2 linked regions of the Homo sapiens genome follow. The protein of the gene in region 2 purifies or fractionates together with the protein of the main gene of each other region. This does not show direct contact. Each region holds a gene or a part of one and is shown on either strand. Other genes may lie near its edges. The genes, in order: ZNF609 and ARID3C.

Region 1 (3,500 bases), on a different chromosome or scaffold from region 2:
CGCACTCCAGCCTGGGCAACAGAGCGACTTCATCTCAAAAAGAAAAAAAAAACTGCTTGAAAGCAAATACTTCCTAACATTACTCTCAATCTGAAAGTTCCTGAAACACTTACCAACCAGCTTTTCATTTCTCGTCTCTTTTAGGAGGGTATTTCAGAGATACCCCCTTGTTCGTCATACTTCGGCAAATGTCATCAACGTGCATTTTCAGCATTAAAAATAACGTAATTGGCTGGGTGCAGTGGCTCAAACCTGTAATCCCACCACTTTGGGAGGCTGAAGCAGGAGGATGGCTTGAGCCTAGGAGCTCAAGACTAGCCTGAGCAACATGGCAAACCATCATCTCTACAAAAAAAATTACAAAAATTAACCAAGCATGGTGGCACACTTTTGTAGTCCCAGCTACTTGGAAGGCTGAGGTGAACCCACTAGGTCAAGGCTGGGTAAGACCCTGTCAAAAATAAATAAATAACAACATAATTTTATTTTCCGAACAAAACACTGTGGGCAACTCAACTTGTACTCAGTCCCAAGAAGTTAATTCAAAGTGGAATTTCTACTGACTAGTCAAAAGTGGAAAAATATCCAACTAACCTCCATAATCAGTCCAATTTAGCTCCCAGATTTCAGATATAATAGATTATTAGATCCTTGACTGAATTTACAAAGTTACTTCTTATTGATAGATGGCAAATCCTTCCAGGTACAACTTCCTTCTCACAAGCTAAGGTTCCTTTTCTGCAGCTTTCTCAACTCCTGACCTCAAGCTGATCCACCCGCCTCGGCCTCCCAAAGTGCTAGGATTACAGGCGTGAGCCACCAAGCCAGGCCAGCCTTTTTTGCAGCTTTCTGATTTCCACTCCTATGTTTTAAGCACACTAGAAAAAGATATATGCGGCAAGTTGGTGAGCCTGCAGAATGAGGCTACAAAACCCTCCAAAAAAAGATGGCCTAATAAAAGTACAGCCTTCCAAACAAATCAAAGAGTATGAGAGTCAAGCCCCAGGGAACTGAAATTGCACTCATTAGCCCTTCTGAATACCGGCTATATTTTTGACCAGCAATAAAAAAAAAAAAGATGCTCACTTATGTTAAATATTTTTGTCCTGTTCTTCCACCATAATCTTTTTTTTTTTTTTTTTTTTTTTTTGGAAATAGGGTCTTGCTCTGTGCGAGTGAAGGCTGAATTGCAGTGGTGAGATCACAGCTCACTGCAGCCTCGACCTCCTGGGCTCAAGCGATCCTCCCATCTCTGCTTCCTGAAGAGCTGGGACCACAGTGCACACCACCTGGCTAATTATTTACGTATTTATTGAAATGGAATTTATCTCTTGTTGCCCAGGCTGGAGTGCAATGGCTTGATCTCGGCTCACTGCAACTTCTACCTCCCAAGTTTAAGCGATTCTCCTGCCTCAGCCTCCCAAGTAGCTGGGATTACAGGCATGTGCCACCACACACGGCTAATTTTGTACTTTTAGTAGAGACAAGGTTTCACCATGTTGGCCAGGCTGAATTGTGTTGTTTTTTTTTTTTTTTTTTTTAAGATATGAGGCCTCTCTGTTGCCCAGGCTGGTCTCCAACTCCTGGGCTCAAGTGATCCTCCTGCCTCAGCCTCCCAAAGTGCTAGGACTACAAGTGTCAACCTGACTCTCAATCTTGGTATCATGATATTCTACAGCTAAATGGAACCGCAGTGATCATCCTGTCTAATGTGTTCATTTCACAGATGAGGCACATGAAAACAGGGGCATGACTTGCACAAGGACAAACAGCTAATTAGAGGCACAGTAATGATCAGAATCTGGGTTTTATGACTCTCAATTCTATGATTTTTTCCCCTCTATTCTTTGAAAAGCTATACTAGCCAGGCATTGTGGCTCATGTCTGTAGTCCCAGCACTTTGGGAAACCATGGAAGGAGGACTGCTTGAGTCCAGGAATTTGAGACCAGCCTGGGCAACCAGACTGGAGTGCAGTGGCACACAACATAGTGAGACTCCATCTCTACAAAAACAATTTAAAAATTGGGCTGGTCACAGTGGCTCATGCCTATAATCCCAGCACTTTGGGAGGCCAAGGTGGGAGGATGGCTTGAGCCCAGGAGTTCAAGACAAGCCTGGGCAATGCAGCGAAACAAAAAAAAACACACAAAAAAATTAGCCAGGTGTGGTGGCATTGAGGCTGGAATGAGCTGTGATTGCACCATTGCACTCCAGCCTAGGCAACAGAGTGAGACCCTGTCTTAAGGAAGGAGAAGCAGAAGGAGGAGGAGAGAGGAGAAAATGAAGGAAGGAAGGAAGGAAAAGAAAAGAAAAGAAAGGAAAGGAAAGGAAAGGAGGAAGGAAGGAAGGAAAGAGAGGAAGGAGAGGAAGGGGAGGGAGGGAGGAAAAAAAAATTAGCTGGGTGTGGTGGCGCCTGCCTGTACTTCCAACTGCTTGGGAGGCTGAGGTAGGAGAATTGCTTGAGCTCAGGAGGTTGAGCCTGCAGTGAGCTGTGATCGTGATTGTGTCACTATGCTCCAGCCTGGTGACAGAGCAAGGCCCTGCCTCAAAAAAGAAAAAAAAAAAAAGCATACTAGTAAAGAAAACATAACACTCTTAGACAATATCTTAACTGTAACAAAGACACAGAAAAATAAAATTTCATCCACATAAAGAGAAGTGTTAGAACAGAAGAAGCAACATTTGTTCATATAGTACAGGGGTTACTTAAGGCACATATTTTCTTTTTTCTTTTTGACAGAGCCTTGCTCTGTTGCCAGACTGGAATGCAGTGGCACGATCTCCACTCACTGCAACCTCCATCTCTCAGATTCAAGCAATCATCCTTCCTCAGCCTCCCGAGTAGCTGGGACTACAGACGTGCGCCACCATGCCCAGCTAATTTTTGTATTTTTAGTAGAGACAGGATTTCACCATGTTGGCCAGGATGGTCTCGATCTCTTGACCTCATGATCCGCCCGTCTCGGCCTCCCAAAGTGCTTAGATTAGAGGCGTAAGCCACCGCACCGGGCTAAGGCACATGTTTTCTAAAGTATTTTATTAATTACCACCTGCTAGAATTTATGTCCTGTGTTTTCATCAAATGTACCTCCTTAAAAGCAGGCCACAGTGACACTTGTGGCAAAGGTCAGAAAAGTGATACTTCTGGCATAGATAACTGATGGTACAAAAGGAATCCACAAAGGTGATGCCCACAATCAAGAAGAAAGGACTGAAGAAGGGGTAGAGATATTGCTGGGAGGAAGTATTCCTGAAAAATGGAATTAAAAAAGAAAAAAACCCCAAAGAAGTTGGCCAGACACTAATGACCAGAGAACACAATAAAAAGAAGGCAGTTTCAGAGCTTGTCTGGCATCAGACAGCTCTCACCTGCAAAAGAAAGAAGGAAAAATTTCTCACAGAGACAAGAGAAAAATCCTAGGTTTGCCCCTGAGTGATGGACTAGATATGACCTGACAGGTATTTGCCATCTCTTATTTCTGGGACTCTGATCCAAGAA
Region 2 (3,271 bases):
AGCATCACCCTGCCTGAGGGGTGGGTTAGGAGCATCTCTGCCCTTCAGTCACCCCCAGCCCTGGCATACAGGGATGTGAACACCATGAAGTCCTTGCATGAATGAATCAGAGCATCAGATATATGTTTGTCTCCTCAGTCTGGTATACAACCCCAGCCTAGCTTCCTTCCTGGGGCTCTAAATTTCCCATGAGGGTGGGGGAAGACTGAGCCCCAGAGGGCAGGCTGAGCCTCCAAGCTCCATCCTGTTCCTCTCTTCCCTTACTCCCCAGATGGGTGGTTTGAATGGCCCAGGGTACCACTACCAGTACCAGTCTCTGTATGTACTAGAAAAAGGCACCCCTGCCTGCCCCTAGGCGGAGAGAGCCTAATGCTAATCCCAGGGAGTCCACATTGAGATCCTACTGACTCCTTCAGCTAGGGACCCTTGTTCAGGGTACAACCTGAATTGGGGTCAAGGGAGGGAGGGGGAGTCAGCAGAGCTGTAGAATGACCCCAATCCTTCCCCAGCTGTATGAGCTCGATGCAGACCCCAAGAGGAAGGAATTTCTGGATGACCTGTTTAGCTTCATGCAAAAGAGGGGTGAGTGGCATGATGTGGGGGAAGGGCCCTGGAATTGCCCCCTTACCAGGTTTGAGGAAACCCGGTTGGGTTCTCCCTGCTGAGGCCTGAGCTTGGCAGCACCTGTCCTTTGGGCCCTCGATAGCGTCTTTAACCTCTGACCCTGTCCCCCTCCTCCACCCCAGGATTAATTAGTGGCCAGCCCACTGGCAGGTTAATGAGTTTGGGATCAATTGGGAGGGTGGGAGGGGGAACTGATGGGAGCCTGGCCTGGGGTGGGAGGGTCCCAGAATCAGAGGGCTGAGAATGCCTTGGTTCTGTGTCCAGGGTCCTTCCTCCAGCCATGTCTTCCCTGTTTTCCCTTGATTCAGGCAGGGGACACCTCACGTGCTCTACAGCAGGAAGGACTAGGAATAGACTGAAGGAAGGACTTCCCAAGGGGTGGGCTGGGGACTATGTGAGTTGAGGCTGTGGAGGAGGAGAAATTCCTTTCCAGGAATGTCAGAGCTGGAGGAGAACGCAAGAAGGGTCCAGGAGGGCATCAGGGTGGGCGGCAGTCCATCACTTCAGCTTTTTCCCAGATTCATGGGACCGAACACTGACTCATTATCTCTCTCTGCAAAGCTAATTAACTCACTCAGAGCGCAGCCTGATAAGCCGCTAATTAACTGGCTGCCCTGTTACCCCCCGCCCCCCCACCGCCTTTAGTGCAGCTGCTGGCCCACTTCCCACTCCCGGCCCTCACCCCAGCACCTCTTTCTGGTCCCTTACCTTCCCAGGGACCCTCAGTAGGGACCTAAGTCCTTTTGGTTCCCAGGGAGGCCCATTCTGGTTCCAGTGTTCCCTCTCTGGCCCTTCCTCGAGGCCTCCCCTCCACTGGGGTAGCGGGTGTGAACCGATCCCAGCATTGCCTGCCTCCCTTCGGTCCCTGCCTCCCACCGCTCCAGCTGCAGGGGGAGGGGGTCCCGCGGGGCCGATAATTTTCCCCCATTAATCAGGCCGCAGCTAATTGTTCGGGTCCAAAGGCGCGGCGGAAGGGGACGGGATCGGTAAGGAATTAACTGGGGCCCATCGCTCAGCGCAGACAGGCCCCTTTGTCAGGACTGGCCGGCGGGGGCGGCGCGGGCTGCGGAGTCGGCGGGCCGAGGCGGGAGTTGATTCTTTTCCCGCCCGTCATCCCCCAGCCTTGGGCAGCCACCCGGGGGCTGCTGCTTAGGGGAGGCCGGCTCTTCAGCACTGTCCGAAAGTCCTTCCTGCGGTCTACCCCAGGGGACAGCAAACTAAAGTTTGCAGGCCAAACCCAGCTGCCTGCAAGATAAGAATGGTTTTTACTTGTTTAAATAGTTGGGGGACAAAATTTAAAGATGAATAACATCTCCAGACTGGTGAAATTCGAATTTCAGAGTCTATATTATTGGAACACAGCCGCATCCATTCCTTCAGGTATTCTCTATGGCCGCCTTTAGGCTACAATGACAGCGTTGAGTAGTTGTGACAGAGACCATTTAGCCATCTGGCCTTTTACAGAACTTTGCCCCCCCCCGTTCTAGCCTCCTGTCCTTCTTGCTAAAACAGAGACCCTGGGGTTCTGTGGGCTCCGCCCAAGTCTCCCTCTTTCCCGCCCTCCCCGGGGCTCCCGTCCTGTATCAGTCCCTGGGGATGCTGCAGACAGGGTCTTCGTCTCAGTGTCCTGACGGCAGCCCGCTCCCCACCAGGGACGCCAGTGAACCGCGTGCCCATCATGGCGAAGCAGGTGCTCGACCTGTACGCTCTGTTTCGCCTGGTGACCGCCAAGGGCGGCCTGGTGGAAGTCATCAACCGCAAAGTGTGGCGGGAAGTCACGCGCGGCCTCAGCCTACCCACCACCATCACCTCGGCCGCCTTCACTCTACGCACCCAGTGAGGCCAGGGGCGGGAGCGGAAGGGAAGGGGGCACGGGTTCGGCCTGGGGCGGGAGGGGGGAGGGTCCCCGGGCGGGCGTCCGGCTGTGGGACTTGACCAGCTGGGTGCAGCCTCCCATACACTCACCGCCCGCTGTCCGCCCCTAGGTACATGAAGTACCTGTACCCGTACGAGTGCGAGACTCGAGCGCTCAGCTCCCCAGGGGAGCTCCAGGCCGCCATAGACAGCAATCGGCGCGAGGGCCGTCGCCAGGCTTACACCGCTACTCCGCTCTTCGGCTTGGCAGGGCCGCCCCCTCGGGGCGCTCAGGACCCAGCCTTGGGTCCCGGCCCCGCCCCTCCGGCGACCCAGTCCAGCCCTGGCCCAGCCCAGGGTTCCACCTCCGGCCTGCCAGCGCATGCATGCGCTCAGCTGAGTCCAAGCCCTATTAAGAAAGGTGCGAGGGGAGAATGGTAGAGGTTTCGGGGTCTCTGAGGTTTAGGTGGGCGCTAAGATATAGCAACCATTAAAATGTGAGGATTGAGGTCTGGGGAGGCATTGAGGTATGGGAGCAGTAAGGTCTGACGGGCTTCTGAGGTTTGGGGGTCACTAAGGTTTAGGGGTCCTGAGGTTTGCGGCCAAATGAGAGCTCTGGGGTACGGGTTACTGAAGTGTAGGGGCTGAAGTTCAGGAAAAGGTCCTTTTTTTTCTTTTTTTCTTTTTTTTTTTTTTTTGTGAGACGGAGTCTCGTTCCGTCGCCCAGGCTGGAGTGCAGTGGCGCGATCTCAGCTCACGGCAACCTCCGCCTCCCGGGTTCAAGCGATTCTCC

The links.
Region 1: the proteins of ARID3C (region 2) and ZNF609 purify together in Homo sapiens (affinity purification with mass spectrometry; one large-scale study listed by BioGRID and IntAct). This does not show direct contact.

The regions. Positions count from the first base shown.
Region 1 is NC_000015.10:64,467,078-64,470,577, reverse strand, and holds part of ZNF609 (zinc finger protein 609), read right to left. Parts: intron 1-3,500. UniProt on the Homo sapiens protein: Transcription factor, which activates RAG1, and possibly RAG2, transcription. Through the regulation of RAG1/2 expression, may regulate thymocyte maturation.
Region 2 is NC_000009.12:34,623,053-34,626,323, reverse strand, and holds part of ARID3C (AT-rich interactive domain-containing protein 3C), read left to right. Parts: intron 1-509; coding exon 510-582; intron 583-2,276; coding exon 2,277-2,460; intron 2,461-2,609; coding exon 2,610-2,899; intron 2,900-3,271. UniProt on the Homo sapiens protein: Transcription factor involved in monocyte-to-macrophage differentiation.